Homo sapiens: one gene and its partners. The main gene of each other region encodes a partner of the protein of the gene in region 4 in a complex. Each region holds a gene or a part of one and is shown on either strand. Other genes may lie near its edges.

What was found.
Region 1: MED1 (region 4) and CCNC share a complex: the UniProt entries of both Homo sapiens proteins name them as parts of the mediator complex.
Region 2: MED1 (region 4) and MED20 share a complex: the UniProt entries of both Homo sapiens proteins name them as parts of the mediator complex.
Region 3: MED1 (region 4) and MED19 share a complex: the UniProt entries of both Homo sapiens proteins name them as parts of the mediator complex.

What each region holds. Positions count from the first base shown.
Region 1 is NC_000006.12:99,558,456-99,566,428, forward strand, and holds part of CCNC (cyclin-C), read right to left. Parts: intron 4,494-7,973; coding exon 4,387-4,493; intron 3,227-4,386; coding exon 3,142-3,226; intron 2,982-3,141; coding exon 2,912-2,981; intron 94-2,911; coding exon 42-93; intron 1-41. UniProt on the Homo sapiens protein: Component of the Mediator complex, a coactivator involved in regulated gene transcription of nearly all RNA polymerase II-dependent genes.
Region 2 is NC_000006.12:41,904,599-41,911,857, reverse strand, and holds the end of MED20 (mediator of RNA polymerase II transcription subunit 20), read left to right. Parts: intron 1-2,335; coding exon 2,336-2,589; intron 2,590-2,992; coding exon of another isoform or gene 2,993-3,014; exon of another isoform or gene 3,015-3,099; intron 3,100-4,570; coding exon 4,571-4,786; 3' UTR 4,787-6,504; downstream 6,505-7,259. UniProt on the Homo sapiens protein: Component of the Mediator complex, a coactivator involved in the regulated transcription of nearly all RNA polymerase II-dependent genes.
Region 3 is NC_000011.10:57,702,596-57,709,574, reverse strand, and holds the end of MED19 (mediator of RNA polymerase II transcription subunit 19), read left to right. Parts: intron 1-4,345; coding exon 4,346-4,602; intron 4,603-4,759; coding exon 4,760-4,856; intron 4,857-4,939; coding exon of another isoform or gene 4,940-4,953; exon of another isoform or gene 4,954-5,178; coding exon 5,179-5,273; exon of another isoform or gene 5,274-5,468; coding exon 5,469-5,537; 3' UTR 5,538-5,865; downstream 5,866-6,979. UniProt on the Homo sapiens protein: Component of the Mediator complex, a coactivator involved in the regulated transcription of nearly all RNA polymerase II-dependent genes.
Region 4 is NC_000017.11:39,440,519-39,448,491, reverse strand, and holds part of MED1 (mediator of RNA polymerase II transcription subunit 1), read left to right. Parts: intron 1-587; coding exon 588-694; intron 695-4,863; coding exon 4,864-4,942; intron 4,943-7,814; coding exon 7,815-7,869; intron 7,870-7,973. UniProt on the Homo sapiens protein: Component of the Mediator complex, a coactivator involved in the regulated transcription of nearly all RNA polymerase II-dependent genes.

The DNA of each region.
Region 1 (7,973 bases), on a different chromosome or scaffold from region 4:
TAGAATTACATCCTTAAAGCAGATATACTTTTTGCACTTACATACAGAAGTAGCAGCAGCAATCAATCTTGTATTTGAAACTACTCCAAATTCCTAAAGAAAGAAAAGCAGGTACATGTTAACCCAATGAATCTAAGGGTATCTGAACTCTATTCAAAACAGGATTTCCTTGCTCCTGTTTACAATCTGTTCACCTTCTAACTACTTGAGGTGTGAAGTACTTACACTCCTAAATGTACAGGCTGATTACCCCTTATCTGACATGCTTAGGATCAGAGATTTTTCTGATTTAGGAATATTTTGCATTACACTGGTTGAGCATCCCTAATCTAAAAATCTGAAATGCAAAATGTTCCAATGAGCATTCCTTTGAATGTCATGTTGGCCCTCAAAACGTTTCAAATTTTGGAGCATTTAGGATTTTCAGATTACGGATATTCTGCCTGTATTACCTCTCCCCCAAATTGCTACAACTTAAGACATATTTTAAAATAATTTTATAATTTAATAACAATAAAAGGTACCAAATTAGAAACCAAGCCTTAAGGTTACAGTGTCAGTTTTTCCATTTAAATTAGTTTCCAAGAAGATTGTTTACATTCTATACTTAATTGCAAGAATATTAAGTATGTTTCCTATTCAATTCAACCTGTATTAACAGATACTTCATGCCATTCTATGGTAAAACAGTTGAATTTGTGAATAAGATAAACCTTAATTAATCACCAAAAGAACTAAAAAAAAAAAAAAACCATATAAATAGTTACTATCCTTTTTAGAACAGGGAGACAGGAATTACGTAAGACTTCCAAAGTCAGTTCCCATTTCCTCTTTCAACTGAACAACCACCATTGTGAAAATACTAAAATTTATTATGATCCACCTTATATATACTGTTTCATTTATTGCCTCGTAAGATTTCTAAAGCCTTCACTTCATTTTAAAATAAAAAAATCAAGAGTTGGTTTCTTATCCAACAAAAGGAGCTAAACTAAAAATCTATTTAAATACCTTCAGCCTACATCCTTATCCTGTGTAGGGGAAATGTATGTGTACTAATATATTTGTTTTACATTTAAACCTCCAACTATAATAACTGAAAAGAAAAAGTAAAAGCCTGAGACATGTTCTTAAATGAGCTTTCCATACAATTTCCATAAAACTAGAGAAAATACAGAAAGATTTGGTCACAGAGATAAAAAAAAAATAATAATAATGCTACGACCAAATCTGAAAGACTACATTCTCTTTCTCAGGAATAATTCTTTTTTTTTTTTTTTTTGAGATGCAATCTTGCTCTGTCACCCAGGCTGGAGTACAGTGGCATAGTCTTGGCTCACTGCAACCTCCACCTCATGGGTTCAAGCAATTCTCATGCTTCGGCCTCCCTAGTAGCTGGGATTACAGGCATCTGCCACCACATCCGGCTAATTTTTGTATTTTTAGTAGAGACGGGGTTTTGCCATGTTGGTTAGGCTGGTCTCAAACTCCTGACCTCAGGTGATCCACCCGCCTGAGCCTCCCAAAGTGCTGGGATTACAGGTGTGAGCCACTACACCCGGCCTAGGAATAATTCTTTATCCAAAACTCAAAGGGAAAACTTTCATTCAGTAAATCACATCACAGAGTTCTACTCAGTAAATCACATAACAATATTTAACAAGTAAGATAGATTAAAATCCTCAAATTAATCTACAAGATTAAATGTTTATAAAGATTTTTTGTCTTGGTCCTCCATACTGCCTGTGCTTAAGAGACTTTAAATTATTACATGGTAATATTTAAATAAAATCAAATATTACATAGAATTATTAGAATTAGAAAACTCAATCCATAATAAGGACCTTAACTGATTCTGCCTTCTTAAACTACCACTCACAATTAGAAAACATAAACTTCTAGAAAGCTTGTCTTAATATTATTTCTAACAGAGTCAATTGTCATTATTTAGGTAACAGTTGGGAAAGATGTCATGGATAACCTTAAATCATGGCTAAAACAAAACTAAATCAAAGTGGGTGCCAAAAGGAATGTAAACTTACTAGGTAAAAATCACATTCAATATTCAAGAATACAACTCTAAGAATAGAACTCTAAGACATTATCCAAAAATAGAAACATAATGCAAAGATTTCACACCACCAAAGACTACATTATTTATGAAAAACAGCCAATATCTGCTATTATTTTCTGGACTTTAGCTGAGCTCTTTCAAAAATACTACAAAGGTAAAACAGTTGAACAGAAATTCAGTCTCTGCCGCAAGTTCCTATCTATCTTCTCTCCCTTACCTAATTTCTCTACGCTCACAACCTCAACTTTTACTTGTTAGACTCTATATAGCTATAGCTTCCCCTAATCCTTGCCTTCCTTCTGGCTTGGTAGGCAGCCAATCATCAGGATGATGGGAGGGAAGACAGGAGAAGATAAGCATATGGGTGAGAAGCATAAGGGACATTCTCAGGTTATGGTAGGCAAGCTGTGGTACTTACTGAATACTACTCAGTGCCAAACAATAGATGTCTCAAAGGCAGCAGAGGAAAGTAGTTAAGAACACAGGATTGGTAACGAGACTCCCATGGTTCAAACACGGGCTCTCACACTTACTAGCTATATCATCTTAAGCAAGTTCTTCATCTCTGTCTCAGTTTCCTCATTTATAAAATGGGAATACTACTACTATGTATTCCAGTTTGTTACAAAGATTAAGTCAGTTGGTACACAGTAAGTGCTGTATGTGTCTGTTAAGTGAATATATAAGGATATGTATATATTTCTTTGATTTTGTACAATTTTAGTATTTTGCATAAATTACCATTTATTAATTTTACATAGGCCATGTGAAAACTGGGGCAGATTAACCAACATACATTGACTACACTTTGATGAAGAACAGAAAATTGTTTTATACCTCTACTTTGGATGCCAAAAACACACATGTAGGAGCCATTAATACAGGATCTATACTTTTCAGAGAATACCTAAAATATGATAAAACAAAGTTAAATATCATTCATACAGAAAACACACTGGGAAAAAAATCAAGATAACTCTATGGTAGACACATGATTCATTTACACTGTGCTAAGGTTCATCAACATTAGATAAGAGTTCAAATAAATAAAATAAAAACAATCCTACCTGGCATAGAATCTCTTGAAATATACCGTAGCAGTGGCAATAACTTGTTGTCTTAATTTAAGATGTTCACCTAATGCTTGGATAACTAAAAGGCAAATAATGAAATTTTAAATGTATCTTCTGGTATCATTATAATATTAACATTGAACAGTAACTTCCATGTGGTTAAATCATAATTATGTTCATTTTTAACAAAGGAAAAAACCTACACATGCTCTATGTGAGTCACAGTGGTCTAATTCTAGGATTTGCAAATGTGTTAAGAAATATATAGGTATGCATAAACAACAACAAAACAACAACAAAACAGAAATTGCCCCACAGGAAAAAATTATTCATCCATTAAGGAAGTTGAATAAATATTTCCCCTCTATCTTCTAAATATTTTTAATGCTTTTCATAGTATCTTTATAATAAATATAAAAAGAAAATATTAGACACCTATGAAACTTGTTAATACTACCACTTTTTTTGTTGTTTTGAGACAGAGTCTCGTTCTGTCGCCCAGGCTGGAATGCAGTAGCACGATCTTGGCTCACTGTAATCTCCACCTCCCAGGTTCAAGTGATTCTTGTGCCTCACCACGCCCAGCTAATTTTTGTATTTTTAGTAGAGAGGGAATTTCACCATGTTGGCCAGGCTCATCTCAAATTCCTGGCCTCAAGTGATCTGCCCACCTCTGCCTCCCAAAGTGCTAAGATTACAGGTGTGAGCCACCACACTTAGCTTTATACAGCTCACCAAAATAAATAAATAATACATAAAAATCCATAACGAATCCTCAAAAAAAAGATAAGTTTACAAAATAGTGAACCGAAAGTTAAAAAAATTATGTGACAAACCTACTACATGTCAGAGTAAAGATCTATCCCTACATCTTCTTCCCTTCAAAGCAAAGTTCTAAGAGAAACGACCACTATAGGATGTCAATCCAAAGAATCATTTATCCTCAAAGTACTTTGCTTTAGCCAACCTTGAACTGGGTCTAATAATTATTATAAAGTCTTAGGGAGATTAGGTAACACTTTCAAATTGTCTTGAGTGCCTGTGATATGTAAAATTCACACAAAAAAACTTTATTTGGATCACTAAAAAGAAAGATAAATGAATATGTTGTAAAAAGAATACCTGTATAAGCAAAAATGTTAGGTATGCACTAAAACAGTTCACAAATTACCACACAAAAACATTTTTATTCAGAGGTAACCAACTATACAATTTGAACCAATTTTTAAAAAAGTTTACCATTTGTAAAAAATATTTGTAACTTCCAATATTCTTCCTCTGAGAGAAACTTTAAATCCTTTTGGCGCTCCTTCAACAGATCTTGTTTATCCAAAATCCATTGCAAACTAGAAAAGACATGTTACAGAAAATCAACAAGCAAGGTCAGAGGAAACACTCTAAGATTGAACACATTGTTCATATTCTGAGAAGTACAAAGTGCAAAAAGTAACCTTAAAGACAATTATTTCTCACATTTCTTGAAACGTGACTAATAAGAATTATCTCACTAATAAATGTAAATACGTCCTGAAAAAATTCTGCTCTAATCTTTTCCTTCTTCCTCCTTAGTCTGTTACTAGCTTGTATTTCATTGATTCTGGCTCTGATATCAAGATATGTCTTACAATCTGTGATGCCTTCGTGTTTTAATTGGCAGCATGTTTATTCTTTCTTAGTGATATAAGATAATGGTGGAATTATTTGGCACCAATTGATGGTGGCTTAGATTTGAGGAAGTATATAGTTTTCCAGCTGTTCATGGGTAACTATGGCATTTAATTTCCTTACTTCACAAATCTAATTATATTAAAAACTGCCTCAGAATGTGTTACACTGATAGCCTCCTCCTCTTGCCTAGTCAAGTGTGCTATTTTTAACCAGATATGAAATTGACATGACTCAAAGAAAAAACTATCTTGAACCTGTGTTTGTCATTCAATATGTATTTGAAGTCTTATGTCAATGAACTTGTTATTCAGCATTCTTTTATACAGCTTTATGGATGGATCATTATTTAGCCAATCTCTACTGATGGAAATACAGGTCGTCATTTTTCACCCATATTTTCTGATACCCTTAAGGGCTTTTTTCCTTCAATTTATGATCCATCTGGAATTTATTTTGGTACAAAGTAGGGATCCAGCTAAAATTTTGTCAAATGCTTATCCAAATGCATGGAGGTATTTCCTAATTTATAATTCTATCATTATACTTGGATCTTCTTTATAATTTCCTATTTTTTTCTTGTTCACATGCTGTGCTATTTTAGACACAGAAAATTAAGTAATTAATAGCTGGTATAAAAAAAAACTCTCTTCCTACTATTTTCCTGAATGATATTCTTCTTAATGAATATCTTTGTAATTCTCCTTGCATATTTGATTAATAATATATTTGAAATAACTTCCCAGAAGTAGGATTAATGGGTTAGTGTTGCTGGTAACTTATTGATACACATTGTCAGTTTACCCTCCAAAAACATTATACCAATTTCCATTTGTATTAACAGTTCATGAGTGAATCTTATAATATTTAATCCTGGCCGGGCGCGGTGGCTCATGCCTGTAATTTTAGCACTCTGGGAGGCCGAGGTGGGTGGATCACCTGAGGTCAGGAGTTTGAGACCAGCCTGACCAATATGGTGAAACTCCATCTCTACTAAAATTACAAAAATTAGCTGGACGTGGTGGCGTGCGCCTGTAGTCCCAGCTACCTGGGAGGCGGAGACAGGAGAACTGCTTGAACCCGGGAGGTGGAAGTTGCACTGAGTTGAGATCATACCACTGCACTCCAGCCTGGGGTACAGAGTGAGACTCTGTCAAAAAAAAAAAAAAAAAAAAAATTCCTATGGGTTACTGCCACTTTTAAATACTTTGTAACTTAAAGGCAAAGTAGTATGTCACTGTTTCTTTTCCCTGTAGTTTACTTTTGAGGTTAAACATCTTTCCATGTCTTTATTGGTCAAATACAGTTCTTCTTTTGTACAATGTTAATTCTAATATGACCATTTTTCTAATGGGATTACCGATTTTTTTAATGATTAAGAGATTCTTCTGATCTAAAATTTGTATAGTATAAATAATAAATCATTTGTTTGTCAAATAAGTGCAAAATTTCTCCCAAGTTTAAATATCTCTCAGTATTTATTTGTAATACAGAAATCTGAATCACTTACTTAAATCTACCTTTTACTTTCATGTTTGTCAGGCATAGCAAGGCCTTTCCTGATTCAAAACGATAAAAAACAATTCACCCATATTTTCTAATACCCTTAAGAGCTTTTTTCCTTCAATTTATGATCCATCTGGAATTTATTTTGGTACAGAGTATAAAGCAGGGATCCAGCTAAATATGTTGTCAAATGCTTATCCAAATGTGCTAAGGTATTTCCTGATTTATAATTCTATCATTATACTTGGATCTTCTTTATAATTTCCTATTTTTTTCTTCTTCATATGCTGTGCTACTTTAAAACATAGAAAATTAAGTAATTAATAGGTGATATGAAAAATACTCCCTTCTATTCTTCTGAAAATTTCTGACTATTCTATCACAATTATTCTAAGACCTAAACTTTAGAAGCATTATGTCGAGTCCTAAAAAAGAATATCCATTCAAATTTTGTGATTACATTACATTTAAAGATCAATATGGGGAGAAATGACATCTTACCAAGAATTCAAACTCTATTAAAATCTGTATGTGCCACTATGGACTTTTAAAGTTTTCTTCCTACAGGTTCTGTATATTTCTTTATATTTTTCCCTCTGTATATTTTCTGTTGCTAATGTAAATTATACTTCTCTATCCATTTTTAAAAAGCTTTTATTTTTGCATTTTATAACTGGTCACCTTCCTAAACCTTTATTATTTCTAATAACTTCTCAATTAACTGAGTTTTCTCATTAATTTTATTTCCACGTATTGATAATTTTGTCCCTGTTTTGTCATTCTTTCTATATCTCCTTTGTATCAACTGTATTGACTAGCATATTGGTAAAATCTTAAATAGGCACCCTAATTATCTCAATGTTTCACCACTGCTGATGCTTTATGTTTTTCATGTTAAGGAAGCATCCTATTTCTGTTTTAGTAAGAGCTTTAGTCAAGGATAAATGTTGAATTGTATTAGTTTTTTAATACCTTTACTGCTTGATTTCTTAATATTGACTATATTTCTATAATAAAATCCAATGTCATGTTTTATACTTTCAATGTAATGTTAGACTGCATTTGGTAATAATTCATTTACAATGTTTGCATTAATATTCAAAAGTGAGACTGTTTTTAGTGTTCCCTTTGCTAGATTTTTCTGTGTTATCATGGCTTCATAAAGAGAATTAGAAAGCTTTTCTTCTTTCTGTATGAAATGGAACAATTTCAAAAGGAGATTCTCTTGAAAGATGGAAAGTATTTACCCATGAAATAACACATAGCTCTTGGGTAATACTCTTAACTTGCTTTGGCTTTCAAATTTAAAACCCTGGAGATAACCCAAAAGTACCCCTGGGTTTACTTTTCTCATTCCTAATTTTGTATTTTTGTATCATTCCTTTTTCCCCTGATTTAACTAGCAGTAGTTTGGTCTACTGTTTTTATTTACTCTAAGAATTAGCTTTTATAATTTTTTTCCTTTTAATATATTAGCATCGTTATCTATTTTAAGTCTTTCTGTTTCTTTAGGTTTATTTCATGTTTCCTTCTTAATATTATTAAATAGAATATTTCTATTATCTCTCAATTATTCAGGATATTGATTTTCTAATACATTCAAGCTTTGGTTACATTCCATATATGGTACTATTATGATGTTATTTTCTAGATAG
Region 2 (7,259 bases), on a different chromosome or scaffold from region 4:
CTTCAGAGTCGAGAAGTTTGGAACTGGATTTAGAATGAGGTGACAGGTGTGAATTGTCAGCAAGCAGTCAGGAGGAGGGATGTGGCCTGGAGGATCTGTGCAGAGCCTGCTGTGTTCACGCACAGCAGCCTGTATAGGGAAGCCATATGACCTCTGCTCTCGCCGCCCTCGCACCCTTTTCAGTTGCACACTCTTACCCCCGTCTAGAATGTCTTCTTTCCTTTGTGTGGCTGGATCCTACCTTCTCTTCATATTGCAGTTCAAATCCTACTTTTTTTTCCTGCTGACTTGTTCATTTTAATCTTTTCCTATCCTGAAGTCTTTCCTTTTTCCGAAAGACTTGTGGTCTTTCCTCGGTAATAACTTGTTTTATTTTGTGGTCTTTCAAAAAGTTTTTAGCCTATCTCAGCTGGGCGTGGCGGCTCATGCCTGGAATCCCAGCCCTTTCGGAGGCTGAGGCGGGCAGATCACCTGAGGTCAGGAGTTCAAGACCAGCCTGGCCAACATGGTGAAACCCCGTCTCTACTAAAAATACAAAAATTAGCCAGGTGTGGTGGCTCACACCTATAATCCCAGCTACTCAGGAGGCTGAGGCAAGAGAATCACTTGAACCTAAGAGGTGGAGGTTGCAGTGAGCCAAGATTGCACCATTGCACTACAGCCTGGGCGACAGAGTGAGACTCTGTCTCAAAAAAAAAAAAAAGTTTTTAGCCTATCTCTCTCATGAGATTGTCAGCTTTTTTTTTTTTTTGAGATGGAGTCTCGCTGTCACCCAGGCTGGAGTGCAGTGGCACGATCTCGGCTCACTGCAACCTCTGCCTCTTGGGTTCAAGCGCTTCTCCTGCCTCAGCCTCCCGAGTAGCTGGGATTACAGGCGCATGCCACCATGCCTGGCTAATTTCTGTGTTTTTAGTAGACACGAGGTTTTACCATGTTGGCCAGGCTGGTCTCGAACTCCTGACCTCAAGTGATCCACCCACCTTGGCCTCCCAAAGTGCTGGGATTACAGGTGTGAGCCACTGTGCCCAGCCTGATTGTCAGCTTCTTGAAGTCAGGGGCTAAGTCCTCTGCTTGTACATCTCTGAAGCCCTAAGAAAAGTGTTGGGAATGGCTTATATATGTAATAAGCATGTGGGATTGTGGCAGTCTATCCATTAATTCTTGTAGCGTATGAAAGAGGAATCTTGCTTTCCAGTTTTTACCTTTTTTTTTCTTTTTTTTTTTTGGAGATAGAGTATTGCTCTGTTGCCCAGACTGGAGTGCAGTGACACGCTCTCAACTCACTGCAACCTCTGCCTCCTGGGTTCAGGTGATTCTCGTGCCTCAGCCTCCCCAGTAGCTGGGATTACAGGCGTGCACCGCCACACCCAGATAATTTTTGTATTTTTAGTAGAGACATGTTTTCACCATGTTGATCAGGCCGGTCTGGAACTCCTGACCTCAAGTGATCCACCCGCCTCAGCCTCCCAAAGTGTTGGGATTACGGGTGGGAGCCACTGTGCCCAGCCCTGCCTTCTTTTGTTTTCTACTTAACTAAATGTGTATAGCTTTCCATTTTTATTGCAAATAGCCTATGGAAATAAATGAGAAAACTCATATTTTAGAGACTGGAAGGGGTGAGCTGGGGCTTGAAAGTTGATCTTCTGATCCAGATCCTGAGGTCTCTCTGCTGTAGTGTGCTGCTTGCTTCCCAAGTTGGCTAGACTTCTAAAAATTCTCCAACGGTTTGCCATTGGTTTCAGGATACAGTCTAAACTTCTTGAGGCATGGTAGATAAGACCTATCACAGCTTGGATCCCATCTACCTTTCCCTGCTTATGCTCAGACACTCCCCTTTGCTGCTTCCATAGGACCATTTACTAGATCTCAAAGAGGGAGGAGGCTAAGCTGAGGAAGAGTGTGCAGAAGAAGGGAGCAGCTACTTCCTTTGGCATGCCCAAATGCTGTTACTTTCATTTTACTTATGTAATATATGATAATATACAAAAGATTATACGTAAAGTCTGTGGGAGTTAGACTTTACATGTAGACCATCTGTGAGCCCACCACTCAACTTAAGAATTAAAACATGATCAACACTATTAAAGTTCCCTGTGTGCCCCTCACTGTTTTCTGTAGAGCAGGGTGGGTTTTACCACATGCTGCCTCTCCTGCTATTTCCCCCTACCTTTCTAGAAAAGGCTGTCAGTGAGAGGATTCCCCTCACCCCCAACCAAGAACTGCTGAGGTAGTGCCAGATTGCTGTCTGGCCTCATTCCGGGGGGAGTCATTTGACTCTACTCTGGGGTTTGCCAGTGAAAGTCTTGATGATGAATAGGATCTCTGTCCCTTGCAGGTCAGACCGGGAAGCTGATGTATGTGATGCACAACTCAGAGTACCCATTGAGCTGTTTCGCCCTCTTTGAGAATGGCCCTTGCCTTATTGCTGACACCAACTTTGATGTGCTTATGGTGAAGCTCAAGGGCTTTTTCCAGAGTGCTAAGGCCAGCAAGATTGAGACCCGGGGCACCAGGTACCAGTACTGTGACTTCCTGGTGAAGGTGGGCACGGTCACAATGGGGCCCAGTGCCCGGGGCATCTCTGTGGAGGTAAGACCTTGGTGAAAATAGGAGCAGGATGTTCTGAGGGGGCTGCTTAGCAAAGGGCTCTGAAGATTTTCCAGTTCTTCTCTTTTTTTTTTTTTGAGACAGAGTCTTGTTCTGTCACCCAGGCTGGAATGCAATGGCACAATCTTGGCACACTGTAGCCTCGACCTCCAGGGCTCAAGTGATCCTTCCGCCTCAGTCTCCCAAGTACCTGGGACTACACCCACCGAATTAAATTTTTTTTTTTTTTTAGTAGAAATGAGGTCTTACTATGTTGCCCAGGCTGATCTCAGACTCCTGGGCTCAATTGATCCTCCCATCTCAGCCCCCCAAAGTGCTGGGGTTACAGGTATGAGCCAACACACCTGGCCTCCAGTCCTCAATTTAAACAGATATTTATGCCTACCTGATCCCTGACTCCAAGGCATCTATGCTTCCTCTTCGTGAATCTTTTATCCTTTCTTTAATTATTCAGAGACTCTCTAACACAGCTGGCAAGTAGGAAGCGGGAAGCTGGGTTCAAAGCAAGCAGAAAGCTTCATTAGGAAGGGTGGCTTGCTGGAGAAGGGAAAAGATAGTCAAGGAAGGCAGGTGAGTTATGATATGGAGGGACAGTCACCCATGACAAGAAGTTCTGGAGCAGACCAGGACAACTCTTAGAACAATTTTCTGGCGGTGGGCCCTAAATCACATATGCCCATATACCTTTCCTTAGTATGCTTTAAGATAGGTTGGGAAGCAAAAATGTGCTTTTCCTTTTGACATGCTGTCTGCTTTCTTTCATGGTAGAAAGAGTGTTTGTGTGTGAGATCACTTCATCTGTGACACAGAGAGTGTGTGTGTGTCTGTGTATACATACACATATATAGTGACAAGGAGTGAGAGTGGCAGTGTAGCAGTGGCTGGCTTCTTTGGGACCAGGGAAAGTTCACAACCTATAATGTGCCCAGCACTGAGATAAGAAAACAAGTAAGCTTGCAGGTCTACCCTTTGAAAATTTGTGATTTATTTATTAAGAGTGAGGCTGAAACACACAAACTCTTTTTGAAGTTAGTCTGAAAATGCTATAAAAGAGGCAGTTGGCTCTGGGAATTCAGGCCAGTGTGAACACTGCTGACTTTGGTTGTGATGCTTCCTGAGGATCAACATTTATGTAGGGATTTAAAATGTAGAGACATGGGGATAGATAAGTCTAGGAAGAATCCCAGTTGGAGAAAAGGGCATTAGTGGTAGTTTCTGCTCAGCAACCTCTAGGACCAAGACTTCTAACCCTTTCGGCTTGTGATAGACCTTGGATTTGCTGAGACCCACTGAGGACCCGCTGTTTATCCTCCACATTTCTAATCTTGTAGTAGAAACACACTCCACCTGTTTCTTTACTTATTTCTCCTTAGGGTTGCCAGTAATTTTGCCCTGCCATCTCTCCAGTAAAAAATTAAGAGAGCAGAAGGAGAAAACCTAAGATGTATATTTTTTGGCCCATGACACACTATTTGGGAAATTCTTTCTTAGGGTCAGAACCCAGGTTGGTTCTACTTAGGGAGTAAAATTTGGTCTTGAAAAAAACTCATGAGCATATGTGTCCACTCTACTCTCTACTTACCACCCCCACACACATTTTCCTTCTCTTTCTCTTTGTTGTGTCTCTTAGAATTTTCTTGAGCTCTCCTTGAATCTTTACCCAGCATAGCAGGGACAACACAGTCCTGAGATCATCAAAAGGGGCCCAGATCTGCTTCTGGGTCCTCTGGGAGGGCTGCGGGTTGGCACAGCTCCAGGATGAGAAGGTCAAAGATGCCTAAAGATGCTGGGTATTGAGCCCAGTGTTTAGGTTGAATGTTTCCTGTGGACCAATACTGTGCTAGGAGGTGTGTGTCTTTAGCTCGGGGTTGGGGAAGATGGGAGCAGGAGGCAGGAGGTACAAGAGAAGCAGACCTTGTCTTAGCCTTCATTCACCCTCATTCTCTGTGCTTTTGGTTCCCAGGTGGAGTATGGCCCCTGTGTGGTAGCTAGTGACTGCTGGAGTCTGCTGCTCGAGTTCCTACAGAGTTTTCTAGGCAGCCACACACCAGGGGCTCCCGCAGTGTTTGGGAACAGACATGATGCGGTCTACGGCCCAGCAGATACCATGGTCCAGTACATGGAACTCTTCAACAAGATCCGCAAGCAGCAGCAGGTGCCGGTGGCTGGGATTCGTTAGTGATGAGCAGCTGCCAGCTGAGCTCTGTCACCAGGGGTACTCCACAGGAGGAGCAGGTGCTGACTTTCAGGTCCCTGGACCCCAGAAACCCAGGGTAGACATGGACTCTACTCTCCTTCTCTGGTTCTCAGCTGTGGCTTTTGTTCTGGGGCTGAGTCCCCTCCCCAACCCCCTGACTCTCACACATAGCCCCCCATCAGCTGTTTTACTCCGTGCCTTACTGGATTTGGCCTGTCCTCAAGAATGGTAATTATGAAGAGTGGAGAAGTTTGGACCTTGCCTCCTTTAGGGGAAAGGTAGGACAGGAATGTCCCTGCCTGGTACTGGTGGGGGAAATAGTCCGTATCCCCAACTATTAAGGATTTGTCCCAGGCCAATGGTGAACATGCTGCATTTTATGTTTGGATTGTGCTGTAATAAGAGCCTCTTCCTTCCCTCAGAGGATGTGGCTGGGCTTCTATCCTAGAGATGGAGTAGAAGGCACAACTGGTTTGATAGTTACTATTTTCTGACCTGTTTGCTGAAGTGATTTGCGAATTGACTTTCCTAGGGTGTTGCCTGAGTCCTTTGAAATCTCCTTCTGACATCTTTCCCTTCTGTTGTGAAATATGTTAAGCCACAGGCCAAACTGCTATAAGATCGAAGTTTGTTTTTTTCTCACCTAATAATAGAGAGGTAATCAGATGGTCTAGGGCAGATTTAACTCTACAAGGTTATCAGGAACTTTGTTTCCTTCTGTCTTATTCAGCCATTCCCAGTATGTTTTCTTACCCATAAGATCAAAGCAGACTCATCAGCTCCATATCTGCATTCCACTGGGGAAAGAGAGAGAGAAAAGAGCAGATTTTAAAAAAAAGATATGACTGAGCATTGCTCAGATCACTGTGGCCACACTTTGCTGAAAGAGATGCTGGGACATAGAACCTCTTATCTGGGCAGTCATGTGCTGAGTTAAAACTCAGGGATTCTGTGACTACAAGATGAAAGACAATTTGGTTGCTGAGATGCAGTTAATGGCTTCTGTTACATGGAGCTCAATGGACGTGCCCAGGAATGCTTTTGGCTGTTATTTTGCAGTTAATACCTCCTGTAACTAAAGCATTTGTTTATGAGTTGACTTGAGAGAAGGGCTGATCTCAGAGCCGCTTTGAGCTAAGTTGGATTAGTCACACTAGGAAGTTAATTCCACACCTTTCGTCTAAGTCTCAGTATTGAGGCCTCTCCAGTTCTCATGCACCCTGATCTTAGGGTTAGAATACTTGACCCTGATACCTGCACCATGCTTCATGGTTCCTGAGCTCTTTCTCCTGTTTCATTTGAGCCTCCAAACTACATATTTGGTCATATTGCCTGCCTACCCCATGCCTGCTGCAGAAATATTCATCCAGGTTAACCTTGATATACACAGAGATGGTCTTGGAGAATTGTGAATGTATGTACTGTATTGTCATCAAGGATACTGTCCCTTATTTGAAGGCATCTAAAGAGAAACTGTTTTCAGATCCAAGTGCTCAGATCTAAAGCCTCTGCAACAAGTCAGGTGGTGGTCATGTTTCCCTTCTAGTTTTGGCTGACAGGAAGCTCAGTTCAGTACCATAACTACAGAACCTGTCATCTGTATTTTTTGTTCTCACCCCGTTTTTGTTATTTTGTTTCTGGTTTTTTATATTGAGGTATGTTTTAGATATAGTTTACAAAAATAAAACGCACAGATCTTACCTTTTTGGCCTCCTGATTTACATTTGCTCTCGTCCAGGTTTATTTATTTGTATTTTTCTGTAGGCTGCAGCTTTTATGGAATGAAACAATGCATAGGCAGCATTTTGAACACAATGCATTTCCTGAAAATCTCCAGAAGTTGATCGTGGTAAATATAGACTCTCTAGACTTATGCATCATAAGGAGGGACTCTGTTCCCTAAAAGCTAAAAAGCAGTATAAAATCCCTAACTACACTTGGCTTTTATTTTGTTTTTTTATTATTATTATTACTTTTGAGATGGAGTTTTGCTCTTGTTGCCCAGGCTAGAGTGCAATGGTACAATCTTGGCTCACCACAACCTCCGCTTCCTGGGTTCAAGCGATTCTCCTGCCTCAGCCTCCCGAGTAGCTGGGATTACAGGCATGTGCAGTTAATTTTGTACTTTTAGTAGAGATGGGCTTTCTCCATGTTGGTCAGGCTGGTCTCGAACTCCTGACCTCAGGTGATCCACCTGCTTCAGCCTCCCAAAGTGCTGGGATTACAGGCGTGAGCCACCATGCCTGACCCTTATTTTATTTTATTTTTTTGCAATGGAGTTTCATTCTTGTTACCTAGGCTGGAGCGCAGCGGCGCAATCTCGGCTCACTGCGAACTCCGCTTCCCGGATTCAAGCAATTCTCATGCCTCAGCCTCCCGAATAGCTGGGATTAGAGGCGCCCACCACCACACCCGGCTAATTTTTTGTATTTTTAGTAGAGATGGGGTTTCGTCA
Region 3 (6,979 bases), on a different chromosome or scaffold from region 4:
ATTAAAAATATATATTGTATATAGAAGTGAAGGAAATAGAGGAATTGATGCCTTTTTAAGTTTTCGGCTTGAATAATTGGGTGTATGGGTACGGAGACTTGGAAGATGAGGAAGGAACAAGTTTGAAGAGGTGGAAATCAAGAGTTATTTTGGACATGTTTGGTCTCCAAGATGCCTCTTTTTTTTTTTTTTTTAAACAGAGTTTTGCTCTTGTTGCCCAGGCTGGAGTGCAATGGCACAATCTCAGCTCACCACAACCTCCGCCTCCCAGGTTCAAGCGATTCTCCTGCCTCAGCCTCCCGAGTAGTTCGGATTACAGGCATGTGCCACCACACCCAGCTAATTTTTTATTTTTAGTGGAGACAGGGTTTCTCCCTGTTGGTCAGGCAGATCTCAAACTCCCAACCTCAGGTGATCCGCCCACCTTGGCCTCCCAGAGTGCCAGGATTACAGGCGTGAGCCACTGCGCCCAGCCTCCCAGATGCCTTTCATTGTCTCAAGTCTTATTTCCACATCATGACTTGAGGGAAATAGCAACAAATATTGGTATAGTACTTTGAAGTTCACAACACACTTACATGCAGTATTTAATATAAGTAGTATTTAATACTTAGAATAGCCCTTTGAGGTAGCATTACTGTCTACATTTTATAATTGAAAAAACTGAAACATGGAGAAGTTGACATCCCTTTGATTAGTTAGTGGTTGATGTCCACCAGCGGTTTCTTTTAATCTTTCTTTTGCCTTCCCTATTCTGATTGTAGCTATTTGTATCAGTCAGTTGACAGATATTGAATATATGTTCTGGGCAAATGCTGGGTGTATGAGGCGGGTGAGATGGAGAGAGAGATTAGTAATGCTGGTCATTGCTTTTCAAGGAGTTTAGTTAGGAATGTAAAATTTGTGGTTTAAGGATAGTGACTATATTTCCTGTCACCTCCATCTCATTTTGTGCTCATGCCTCACAACAGCAATTAACAATATCTTAGCCATCAATATTAAGAACTACCTAATGGTTTTCAAAGTGTGTTGCTATCCAGAATGACAGTGAGAATAAGATGTCACTTGAGCTAGACCTTGAATAATCCATATTGGTGAAGAAAAATTAGGAAGAATTTTCCTAAGATGAAATAATGTGAGGGGTGTTTTTTTGAGGCGATAAGGAGATCCATTTGGATGGATCAGAAATTTTGCATAGGAGAGTAGTGGTTGATGAGGCCCCAAAGCTAAGTTGGAGTAAGATGTAATTAGCCTTGAGTGCCAGTCAAAGGAATTTGAGCTTTCTCCTGAGGGCAAAAAGAAACCATTAAGATTTGTGAACTGAGGAGTACTGATTTCCAAAAATATCTGGAACATGTGGGTGCCATGGATTGAAATAGAGAAGCCCTGAGTGATGTTGGCAAGATTTGGAATTTCAAAACAATTTTTTTTTTTTTTATCTTGTTGGGCAGGGTGGTTCACGCCTGTAATCCTAGCACTTTGGGAGGCTGAGGCAGGCAGATAGCTTGAGTCCAGGAGTTCAAGACCAGCCTGGGCAACATAGGGAGACCCCTGTCTCTACAAAAAATACAAAAATTAGCCTAGCATGGCAGTGTATGCATGTAGTCCCAGCTACCTGGGAGGCTGAGGCAGGAAAGTAGTTTGAGCCCAGGATGCAGAGATTGCAGTGAGCTAAGATTGTGCCATTACACTCCAGCCTGGGTGACAGAGCGAGACTGTCTCAAAAAATAAATAAATATAAAAAGTAATCTTTGTAGAATAGTCAAAACTGGAATTTGAACTCTCAAGTTACAGTTTAGAAAAAGCACAGACTGCCTTCTCACCTGAGCCTTAAGGATAACCATCTGGACAGAGGAGAGTTGGCAGAGCAGGGGAAATTCAGAAGATTGTAATGGCAAGAGGCAGTGCCCAGAGTTATGAGGAGAGATACTGTGACATTGGGTCTCCTGCCATTACCCTCGCTCAGTCTTCTGAGTTGTTTGGTAGTAAAGGGAAGGAAAAGGATGAATAAGGCCTAGAGGTATAGAGGGAAAGTGCCTTGTTTATTTAATAAATATTTATTAAGCACCTAATGTGTGTACTGTGCTGGGCACTAGCGATACATGAATGAACAAGACATTGTCTGTGCCTCCAAGGAGCTTACAGTTCAGTACCTCAGTTTTCCCAAGTGAATGATTATAAACAAGCCATTTTTGTCATTTGTACCCTCTGTGTCTATCATAATTACAAATGAAGTTGTAGTTAGCTATTTCTACCCTTGCTAGTAGGTCCTTATTAAGTTACTAATAAATGTATATTTTTTAAAAAAGAATCAGCCATGCAATATTTATATGGATAGTGCCTTGCATACATATAATACTTTTTTTTTTTTTTTTTTGAGATGGAATCTGACTCTCCCACCCAGGCTGGAGTGCAGTGGTGCAAACTCAGCTCACTGCAACTTCCACCTCCCGGGTTCAAGCAGTTCTTCTGCCTCAGCCTCCCAAGTAGCTGTGACTACAGGCGCATGCCACCACACCCAGCTAATTTTTGTATTTTTAGTAGAGATGGGGTTTCACCATATTGGCCAGGCTGGTCTCAAACTCCTGACCTCAGGTGATCTGCCTGCCTTGGCCTCCCAAAGTGCTGGGATTACAGGCATGAACCACTGTGCCAAGCCTGATACTTTATGCTTTTCAGCATATTTTCATTTGAACCTTGGGAGAAAATTATGTGTATGTAAGATAGCTATTATTCCATTCCACAGATAAGAGGAAACTGAGGCATGGAAGACAGCCAGAATAATTCTAGTTGCCTGACTTGTTTTTTTGTTTTTGTTGTTTTGTTTTGTTTTGTTTTTTTTGAGACAGGGTCTCACTCTCTCACCCAAACTGGAGTGCAGTGGCCTGATCTCAGCTCACTGCAACCTCCGCCTCGCAGGGATTACAGGTGTGTGCCACTACTGTCCAGCTAATTTTTGTATTTTTAGTAGAGACAGGGTTTCACCATGTTGGCCAGGCTGGTCTTGAACTCCTGACCTCAAATGAGCTGCCCGCCTTGGCCTCCTGAAGTGCTGGGATTACAGGCGTGAGCCACCGCGCCTGGCCATTAGTTGACTGACTTCTAATCAAACATTTCTTCCTGGATGCGTGCTGTGGCTCACACCTGTAATCCCGGCACTTTGGAAAACCGAGGCGGCGGGGGGTGGCGGATCACTTGAGGTCAGAAGTTCAAGACCAGCCTACTCAACATGGTGAACCCCCTTCTCTACTAGAAAAAAATTAGCCAGGCATGGTGGTGTGTGCCTGTGATCCCAGCTACTTGGGAGGCTGAGGTGGGAGAATCACTTGAACCTAGGAGGCGGAGGTTGCAGTGAGCCAAGATCGTACCCCACTGCACTCCAGCCTAGGCGACAGAGCAAAACTCCCGTCTCAAAAACAAAAAACATTTATTCCTTTTAGGCAAGGCATCATACTCAGTATCACGAGGAAGAATAAAGATGTTGGTAACAAGTTAGGCAGTGGTAGCTAGAAAAAAATCTCCCAGTTCTTTTCTTATGTAAAGGTGATTAGTGTTTCTTGCTAGTAAAAAAAAAAAAAAGTCCTTGACAAGACCCTTAAGTCACTGGGTCATATTTGGCCCCCTGAGCATGGTTGTAGCTGAGCTGCAAGGTCGTATTTTCCTAGCTGTGTCAGAGAATATAATTTTTCACTAATACATTTTATGAGAAACACTCAGAACAGCATTTACCACGAAGCAAGCATCATATAAATCAACTCCAGTTAATCTTAAGAGAGTGGAGTGTCTCCTTCATTGGGCTAGAGCAGTTCCTGTCTCTGCCCTATTGGATTTTTGCCTGTTTTTCCCCTTCCCATTGGAACCTACCATTGTGTTGTATTATACTTTTCATGTTATTTACTTTTGCTGTTTTTTTTTTTTTTTTTGAGACAGAGTCTCGCTGTTGTCCAGGCTGGAGTGCAGTGGCGCAATCTCAGCTCACTGCAACCTCCACCTCCCGGGTTCAAGTGATTGTCCTGCCCCAGCCTCCTGAGTAGTTGGGACTACAGGCACGTGCTACCACGCCTGGCTAATTTTTTGTATTTTTACTAGAGACGGAGTTTCACCGTGTTGTTAGCCAGGATGGTCTCGATCTCCTGACCTGGTGATCCACCCGCCTCAGCCTCCCAAAGTTCTGGGATTACAGGCATGAGCCACTGCATCCGGCCTGCTCTGTTTCTTTAAAAATAAATTTTAAATTTTAAAATCTGCACTTAAAAAATGTCTTATTTAGGTTAATATATAGTCCTTCACTCCCTGGGTCTACTTTGAAGACTGATCTTTTTTATTTTTATTCTGCGTTGTCTAGGTAGCACAGAGCTGACAGGCAGCACGAATCTGATCACACACTACAACTTGGAACAAGCCTATAATAAATTCTGTGGGAAGAAGGTGAAGGAGAAGCTAAGTAACTTCCTGCCTGACCTGCCAGGGATGATTGATCTGCCTGGTTCCCATGATAACAGCAGCCTCCGCTCTCTCATTGAGAAGCCCCCTATTCTCAGTAGCTCTTTCAATCCTATCACAGGGACCATGCTGGCCGGCTTCCGCCTCCACACTGGCCCGGTGAGTCCTGTTGGAGGAAGAAGGCAAATGGGGAGGCCTAAACATGGAGATGGTTTTTCTCTCCAAGTCTGTTCCTTCATAATGGAGCAGAATGGATGATAAGAGCAGGAGAGATTTCCTCCCTCTACTCACCTGGACCTTCCTTTGGTTCCTTCAGTTGCCGGAGCAGTGTCGTCTGATGCATATTCAGCCTCCCAAGAAGAAGAATAAGCACAAGCACAAACAGAGCCGTACCCAGGATCCTGTCCCCCCAGGTAAGAAGCAGTTCTATTCAAAGCAAAAAAAAAAAAAAAAAAAAAAAAACCTGACCTTCTGAATCTGGTTTGAACTTCCATAGGTAAACCCAGTTAAGTTCCGTATGGAGCTCTGGACTCCTAAATTCCCCTGAAGAAGAAACCAATGTACTGTGGTCTCTTGGGACTTGGGACAGGGACTCTAGCAGCACCTCTGTATCCTTTCTGGCCATTTGGACAAAAGCAGTTGCCCCGACTTGGGATTTTCCTGTAGTCTTCAGTGGTTCATAACAGTAGAGGATTTTGAGCTTTACAGGTGATAGGTACCTAATGTCTCCTACAGAAACACCATCTGATTCAGATCACAAGAAGAAGAAAAAGAAAAAAGAAGAGGATCCTGAACGGAAAAGGAAGAAGAAAGAGAAGAAGAAAAAGAAGGTAGAGTAGAGGCCTATTGCCACAACCCAGTGAGTTTCCCCAGATCTCACCCCTGTCCTAAATACCCTAGAGTTCTTTGCCTCAAGTTGGACCCAAGATTGAAAACCCAAGGCAGGTTGCAGGTTTCTCCTGTACAGCCTGATCAAAGCCAAGGCTAGTTCCTAGTTGTTCTTACCCTGCTTCTTTCTCCCCCAGAATCGACATAGTCCAGACCACCCAGGTATGGGCAGCTCCCAGGCCAGCAGCAGCAGCAGCCTACGCTAATAGGACCACTGGACTCTTTGCCAGGATGGCTTTTCCTGCTGTACTGAACCTGCTGATAAAAGCTGCCTTCCAGGCTCTTGGACACTGCCTTGGGAGCATCCTGCAGCTGGGACAGAGGCCAGCTCCTGTTGGGCTCAGTTGAGACTAAGTAAATTAGGAGAGAGAGGGACATGCTTTTGTAGGCTCATCCCAGTTGGTTTTCTCATGGACATCTCTTCCTCTCCCAGGAAGCTTACAATTTTCTTCTCTCTCTTTTGTGCAATTTGTCTGATTTAGGACTTGTTCTGTGTTTTCTTTAAAAAAAAAAAAATTACATTTATCAAACTGGCTGAAGTGTGACTGCCTGTTAAGAGGTATGTGCCTTTCTGTGAATCAGGATTTAAGACAAGGCATTCCTAAGACTTGAGGGGATTTGGGTCTTGTCATTACATGATCTCACTAGCAGGCAGGGAACCAACCAAAATGAAAAGTGACCCAAGCTTACTAATACTCCACAGCAGACACGTAACACTCTGCCCATTATGTTGAGAACCAAGCGCCTCGGTGATCTCAGGCTCCATCTGAAGAGCTGATCCAGGTAGGGCTCAACAGTGTATTCTAGGTCAATTTTGTGTCGAAAGAGAATAGCCAACTGAAAACACATGGACAGTCACCCATGTGTTTCAACAAGATTGGTTCTTTAGGTCAGAAGCCTGTGATCTTTTGAGATGAACTTCTGGCAAGCAAAGGTAAAGCTTCCCTTCTCTTTACAAGAACTTTTGACCTGCTTCGGTCCTTAGTTAAGACAATAAAGTTATTTAGCTGATGTGAAAACATTTCTAAAACAGCAACAAAATGTAGCCTAAACCATCAAAATGTGAAAAACAAAAACAAAAAACACTTTTAGTTTTTCCAGCTGGTTAGGTAACTGAAAACATCCATGAGAAAACCTGAATTAATGTAATCTGACTTTAAATTTAACACAGTTAAAATCTGTTGCCGTGAAAGCCAAGGTTGTTCCTGAATCAGTGGGTGGAAAACCACTCATTCAGCTGGTTTAAATCCAGGATTTCAGAATAAGAGTTTGCTGGGTTTTTTTTTTTTTTTTTTTTTTTTTGAGACAGAGTCTTGCTCTGTTGCCCAGGAGTGCAGTGGCATGATCTCGGCTCACGGCAACCTCTGCCTCCTGGGTTCAAGTGATTCTTGTACCTCAGCCTCCCAAGTAGCTGGGACTACAAGTGTGCGTCACCACACCTGGCTAATTTTTGTATATATATATATATATTTTTTTTTTTTTTTTTTTTTTAAATTTTGGAGAAAGAGTCTTGCTCTGTCGCCCATGTTGGAGTGTAGTAGTGCAATCTCAGCTCACTGCAACCTGCACCTCCTGGGTTCAGGTGATTCTCCCACCTCAGCTTCCCAAATAGCCAGGATTACAGGCACCCATAACCAACGCCCAGCTA
Region 4 (7,973 bases):
CACTGAAGCTTCGACCTCCCAGGCTGAGGTGATCCTTCTGCCTCAGCCTCCAGAGTAGCTGGGGACTGACTACAGGCACATGCCAGGAGGCTTGGCTAATTTTTTTCTTTCTTTTTTTTTTTGAGACAGTGTTTCGCTCTGTTGCCCATGCTGGAGTGCAATAGTGTGATCTCGGCTCACTGCAACCTCTGCCTCCTGGATTCAAGCAATTCTCCTCCCTTAGCCTCCCAAGTAGCTGGGATTACAGGCATGCACCACCACATCTGGCTAATTTTGTATTTTCGGTAGAGACAGGGTTTGACACTCCAGCCTGGTCATCAAGAGTGAAACTTAGTCTTTAAAAAAAAAAAAAAAAAGGTGGATAGATAACAGTCCAGTGGTATGGTATTCCTTACATCAGACCCATAACTTGTGTGTCATCTTGCCATTAAAAATGTCTTCTTTGGATGTTTTGAAGTAAAATGATTTTGGAAAATATTTTAACTGAATTCTTACTGTGATGAAGTGTGGGAATTTATTTTGCAAGGAAAACTGTGGATGGTCTTGATAGAACAGTTACTGATAACGTTTTCTGATTTAAATCATAGAGTCAGAAAAGCTGAGTAAGATGAGTTCTCTCCTGGAACGGCTCCATGCAAAATTTAACCAAAATAGACCCTGGAGTGAAACCATTAAGCTTGTGCGTCAAGTCATGGTAAGGATTGTGGTGAAGTGGGTAAAGTGTTTTGCTTAGATAATTATTCTTAATACGCTAAGCTCCCCATGTAGATGTGTTCATACTATCTTCATAAAACATCTGAATACATGGTGGTTTCAACTTTAGGAGTCTATTGTATCTATACTACAGGTTGAATATCCCTTATATGAAATGCTTGGGACCGGAAGTGTTTTAGATTTTGGATTGTTTTGGATTTTGGAATATTTGCAAATATATAATGAGATATCTTGGGGATGGGACCCAAGTCTAAACACATAATTTATTTATGTTTCATAAACACCTTATAGATATAGCCTGAAGGTAATTTTATACAACATATTTAATAATATATTTAATACTTTTGTGTGTGAAACTAAGTTTTTTTTTGTTTTTTTTTTTTATTGAGACGGAGTTTCACTCTTGTTGCCCAGGCTGGGTTGTAATAGCCCGATCTCGGCTCACTGCAACCTCTGCCTCCCAGGTTCAAGTGATTCTTCTGCCTCAGCCTCCCGAATAGCTGGGATTACAGGCATGCGCCACCACGCCCAGCTAATTTTTATATTATTTGTAGAGACGGGGTTTCTCCATGTTGGTCAGGCTGGTCTTGACCTCCAGACCTCAGGTGATCCACCTGCCTTCGCCTCCCAAAGTGCTGGGATTACAGGCGTGAGCCACCGCGTCCAGCCGTTTTGACTGCATTTTGACTATGACCCTGTTATGTGAGGTCAGGTGTGAAATCCTTGGTGGCATCATTGGGAATGCTAAAAAGGTTTTGGATTTGGGAGCATTTCAGATTTTTGATTTTCAGATTAGGTATGCCCAGCCTGTACTAGTAGAATTTTTGATTCATTCTTTTTTTTGAGACCAGGTCTTATCATCCAGGCTCAAGTGCAGTGGCGCGATCATGGCTCACTGCAGCTTCAACTTCCCAGGCTCAGGTGGTTCTCCCACCTCAGCCTCCTAGTATCTGGAACAACAGGTGCATGTAACCATGTCCAGCTAGTTTTTTTTTTTTTTTCTTTGAGATGGAGTCTTGCTCTGTGGCCAGGCTGGAGTGCAATGGTGCGATCTCGGCTCACTGCAACCTCTGCCTCTTAGGTTCAAGAGATTCCCCTGCGTCAGCCTCCCGAGTAGCCGGGACTACAGGCACACGCCACCACGCCTGGCTAATTTTTTGTATTTTAGTAGAGATGGGGTTTCACCATGTTGGTCAGGATGGTCTCCATCTCCTGACCTCGTGATCTGCCTCCCAAAGTGCTGGGATTACAGGCGTGAGCCACTGTGCCCGGCTGCCCAGCTAGTTTTTTATATTTTTTGTAGAAATCGTTTTTTTTTTTTTTTTTTTGAGATGGAGTGTCGCTTTGTCACCCAGGCTGGAGTGCAGTGGTGCGATCTCGGCTCACTGCAAGCTTTGCCTCCCGGGTTCATGCCGTTCTCCTGCCTCAGCCTCCCGAGTAGCTGGGACTACAGGCCCCTGCCACTATTCCCGGCTAACTTTTTGTATTTTTAGTAGAGACGGGGTTTCACCGTGTTAGCCAGGATGGTCTCGATCTCCTGACCTCGTGATCCACCCGTCTCGGCCTCTCAAAGTGCTGGGATTACAGGCGTAGCCACTGCGCTTAGCCAGAAATAGGTTTTTACTCTGTGGCTCAGGCTGGTCTCAAACTTGTGGGCTCAAGTGATCCACCCACTTTGGCCTCCCAAAGTGTTAGGATTACAGTGTGAGCCACCGTGCCTGGCGGATTCATTTTTTTTTTTTTTTTTTAAAGATGGAATCTCTGTCTGTCACCTAGGCTGGAGTGCAGTGGTGGGATCTTGGCTCACTGCATCCTCCGCCTCCTGGGTTCAAGCGATTCTCCTGCCCCAGCCTCCTGAGTAGCTGGTATTACAGGCATCCGCCACCATGCCCAGTTAATTTTTGTATTTTTAGTAGAGATGGGGTTTCACCATGTTAGCCAGGCTGGTCTTGAACTCCTGACCTTGTGATCCACCTGCCTCAGCCTCCCAAAGTGCTGTGATTACGGGTGTGAGCCCCTGTGCCTGGCCCAGGTTGTCATTTTTATTCCTTAAGGCAACCAAATTCTAGCTTGAAATATGTTCTGTAAATGATACTGTCATTAGAGAGACATTGTGAGATAGAAGGATTCCAGGTGGCTAATAAGGCCCTCTCTTTGGGTACCACTCTCTTGGTTTGGTCACCATGACTTTGCTTGTCTACTTTTCAGTTTTGCAGATTCAGAAACCTAATTTTATTGGTACATCAAGATTTTATAGAGTTTTCATGGCTGGGCGTGGTGGTTCACATCTGTAATCCCAGCACTTTGGGAGGCTGAGGCGGGTCGATCACCTGAGGTCAGGAGTTCGAGACCAGGCTGACCAACAAGGTAAAACCCTGTCTCTACTAAAAAGACAAAATTAGCTGGGCATAGTGGCAGGCGCCTGTAGTCCCAGCTACTCGGGAGGCTGAGACAGCAGAACCGCTTGAACCCGGGAGGTGGAGGTTGCAGTGAGCCAAGATCATGCTACTGCACTCCAGTCTGGGCATCGGAGCGAGACTCCATCTCAAAAAAAAAAAAAGAGTTTTCAACAACTGACATACTGTATGCTTATTTATTAATTTATGACAAAACATTTAGTTTTCCAGTTTTCATAATACTGGTATTCATTGACCAGAGCACCTCTTCTCCTGTCAAGAATCAAGAGATTTCAGATTATTAATAAATTACTTTGTTTTGTAAGGGAGAATTAGAGCAGTGAGATAGATTTATTTGCAACATGGAAAAGCCTGGAAAACTATCCTTATACCAGAAAACTGTTCACGTTTTTAGGGACTGGAATGTTTTTCAGAGAGAAACTTCTTCACTGGATAGGGTTAGGAAAACTAGGCTAAGTTTTTTTTTGTTTGTTTGTTTGTTTTGTTTTGTTTGAGATGGAGTCTCACTCTGTCACCAAGGTTGGAGTGCAATGGTGTGGTCTTGGCTCACTGCAACCTCTGCATCCCCGGGTCAAGCGATTCTCCTGCCTCAGCCTCCTGAGTAGCTGGGACTACAGGCGCGTACCACCACACCTGGCTAATTTTTGTATTTTTAGTAGAGATGGGGTTTCACTATGTTGGCCAGGCTGGTCTCGAACTCCTGACCTCATGATCTGCTCGCCTTGGCCTCCCAAAGTGCTGGGATTACAGGCGTGAGCCACTGCAACCGGCCTCAAACTAGGCTAAGTTTTTGTTCTTTGGAAGTCCCTTTTCTGGACTACATGTTCTGTTTCTTTTCTTTTTCTTTTTTTTTTTGAGACAGAGTCTCTCTCTGTCGCCAGGCTGGAGTGCAGTGGTGTGATCTCGGCTCACTGCAACCTCCGCCTCCTGGGTTCAAGTGATTCTCCTGCCTCAGCCTGCTGAGTAGCTGGGACTATAGGCGTGCACCACCACGCCCAGATAATTTTTGTATTTTTAGTAGAGACGGGGTTTCACCATTTTGGCCAGGATGGTCTCAGTCTCTTGACCTCGTGATCCACCCGCCTTGACCTCCCAAAGTGCTGGGATTACAGGTGTGAGCCACCGCACCCAGCCTATATGTTCTGTTTTTTAGAGTCAATCTCATTTTCTTAAAATTTGGTTGTGTTTCTCAGATTACATGCAAATCACCTTGTTAAATTTGTACACTACCAAATCTCCTGAGCCATCTTATTTAACTGTTTATATCTTAGCATGTGGTCACTTCCACAGGCGGCAGATCTCATGTATTACATTTTGATTCTTCCTAATATTTCTCTAAAGGTTTTTTTGTTTTAGATGTGGAAATACAACGTTTTCTTTTTTGTTTTTGACTAAATAGAAACAGGATCTCTCTATCTTGCCTTGGCTGGTCTCGAACTCCTGGACTCAAGTGATTATTCAGCTTTGGCCTCTCAGTGTGCTAGAATTACAGGCATGAGCCACGTGCCTGGCTGAGGAATACCTTTTTCTACACTCATATATATGGATTTTGCATGGATGGACAGAGTAACACTTGTAGACCAGTGTTACTCTATATAGTCTACAAAATCTATAGACTATATTGAGTCTATAGACTGTCCTGCAATATTACTACTAGGATAATGTGTATGTTTACCTAAAACACTGTTGGCCTGGTTAATTTTCACCTCAAATGTTTTCCCACTTGACACAGGAGAAGAGGGTTGTGATGAGTTCTGGAGGGCATCAACATTTGGTCAGCTGTTTGGAGACATTGCAGAAGGCTCTCAAAGGTTTGTGAACACTTTTGAAATATGCTGATTTCACAAAACCCCCAGTTCAAGAAGGACCATTTTATACTTAAACTAGAAGTAAAAAATTGAGGTAGGTCAACTTTATGTATTAGATATTGCTCTTGCATTCATTTATGGAGTTGGAATGATCTTTTTGCTAAAGTTTGAAACATTTATTTTTGATCCTGTTTTGGAGGCTGATAGAGATTTAAAAGATAAATGATGAAGGGTAATATAAGATACCTGGGGAGGCTGGGTGCGGTGGCTCGCTCCTGTAATCCCAGCACTTTGGGAGGCTGAGGTGGGCGGATCACAAGGTCAGGAGTTTGAGACCAGCCTGGCCAACATGGTGAAACCCTGTCTCTACTAAAAATACAAAAATTAGCTGGACGTGGTGGCGGGCACCTATAATCCCAGCTTCTCGGGAGGCTGAGGCAGGAGAACAGTGTGACCTGGGGAGGCGGAGGTTGCAGTGAGCCAAAATCACGCCATTACACTCCAGCCTGGGCAACAGGGCAAGACTTGTCTCAAAAAAAAAAAAAAAAAAAAAAAAGATACCTGGGAAAAGTTTTTTTTCCCTTCACATTTATTTCTGATTAATCTCGATAAGAAGATGGACTTTTTTTTTTTTTTTTTTTTTTTTTGAGATGGAGTTTCACTCTTGTTGCTCTGGCTGGAGTGCAGTGGTGGAATCTCGGCTCACCACAACCTCTGCCTCCTGGGTTCAAGCGATTCTCCTGCCTCAGCCTCCCAAGTAGCTGGGATTACAGGCATGTGCCACCATGCCCGGGTAATTTTATATTTTTAGTAGAGACAGGGTTTTCCATGTTGGTCAGGCTGGTCTCGATCTCTTGACCTCAGGTGATCTGCCCACCTTGGCCTCCCAAAGTTCTGGGATCACAGGCGCGAGCCACAGCAACTCGCGAAGTTTTTTTTTTTTTTTTTTTTTTTCCGAGACGGTGTCTCACTCTGTCACCCAGGCTGGAGTGCAGTGGCACAATCTTGGCTCACTGCAACCTCCACCTCCTGGGTTCAAGCGATTCTCCTGGCTCAGCCTCCCAAGCAGCTGGGACTACAGGCGCGTCCCACCACGCCTGGCTAATGTTTTGTATTTTTAGTAGAGATGGGGTTTCACCGTGTTAGCCAGGATAGTATAGATCTCCTGACCTCGTGATCCACCCGCCTCGGCCTCCCAAATTGCTGGGATTACAGGCGTGAGCTACCATGCCTGTCCAGAAGATGGACATTTTAACTCTAAAAAGATTTTTACGGTGTTTATGGAGCAAATTTCCAGGAAAGCAAATGTAAAATATAAGTCATGAGCTTGATTATTCATGCTTATAATGACTAATTCTATTTTTGGGGAATAATGAAAGTAAAAACAGATTTTACTGTGATCCACCAGAAATGAACCTAATTCAGCTGAGGGTTTTTTTTTTTTTTTCTGGAGACAGTGTCTCACTCTGTCGTCCAGGCTGGAGTGCAGTGGCACGATCTCTGCTCACTGCAACCTCCGTTTCCCGGATTCAAGTGATTGTTCTGCCTCAGCCTCCTGAGTAACTGGGATTACAGGCGCCCATTACCATGCTCAGCTAATTTTTGGATTTTTAGTAGAGATGGGGTTTCACCATGTTGGCCAGGGTGGTCTTGGACTCCTGACCTCAGGTGATCTGCCTGCCTTGGCCTCCCAAAGTGTTGGGATTACAGGCGTGAGCCACTTTGCCCAGTCTCAGCTGAGTATTATCTTCTTTACCTTTTTTTGTTTTCTTTTTCTTTGAGACAGAGTGTCGCTGTGTCACCCAGGCTGGAGTGCAGTGGCACGATCTCTGCTCACTGCAACCACTGCGCCCCCACCGGGTTCAAGAGATTCTCTTGCCTCAGCCTCCCGAGAGGGTGGGATTATAGGCGCGCACCACCACACCTGGCTAATTTTTGTATTTTTATTAGAGACAGGGTTTCACCACGTTGGTCAGGCTGGTCTTGAACCCCTGACCTTGTGATCCGCATGCCTCGGTCTCCGAAAGTGTTAGGATTACAGGCGTCAGCCACCGCACGAGGCCTTTTTTTCTGTTTTAATTGTGGTAAAATATAGGTAACAAAATTTACCATTTTCTTTGTTTCTAAGTGTATAGTTCAGTAGCGTTAAGTACATTCATATTATTGTATAATCATCACCACTGTCCATCTGTAAAACTTCACTCATCTTCCCAAGCTTACATTCTGTAATGTCCCATTCCCGCCTTCCCCCAGTCCCTGGCAGCCACCATTCTGCTTCCTGTCTTTATGAATTTGACTACTCTGTATACCTGATATAAGTGGAATCATATATTTGTCCTTTTGTGACTGGCTTATTTCACTAAACGTAATGTCTTCAAGGTTCATCTATTTTGAAGCATTTATTAGAATTTCTTTCTTTTTTAAGGTTGAAAAATACTCCTCTTTATGTATATACATTTCATTTATCCATTCATCTGCTAGTGGACACTTGGATTGTTTTAACCTTTTGACTGTTGTGATTAATGGTGTTGTTAATGTTGAGTTTTTTTTAATGTTAGTTTTAATGTTAATCTTCCTTATTCTATCATTAGCAGATAAATGTGTCTTAAGTTAAAGGCAGTTTGTCCCACATAAGGAGTAATGAAAACAGGAGAGGAGAAAGGTTCGGTAATTTTTCAAATAGATCTTTTTTTTTTGACCTTTAGTACTGCATAGGCCACAGCTAACCCTAATCAGTGAACTTTATGTAAATTACAAGCATTTGAACTACTGAATATGTTTACGGTTTTGGAAGGATGAATCTTTCTGTCTTAAAAGAATATCATTTAAGTCATTTGGAGCATTCTTTGTGACTCCTTTTTTCATCCTTTTATAGTAACATCTTTACCAGCAATGACTGATCGTTTGGAGTCCATAGCAAGACAGAATGGGTAAGTAGTCTTTCTGTAGGCAGAAATGTTTAACTTAGTGTTAACTTTGGGTGGCTTTATTTATGTGTCTTCTATTAATTTTTGTTTTGATTTGTTCCTGCTAG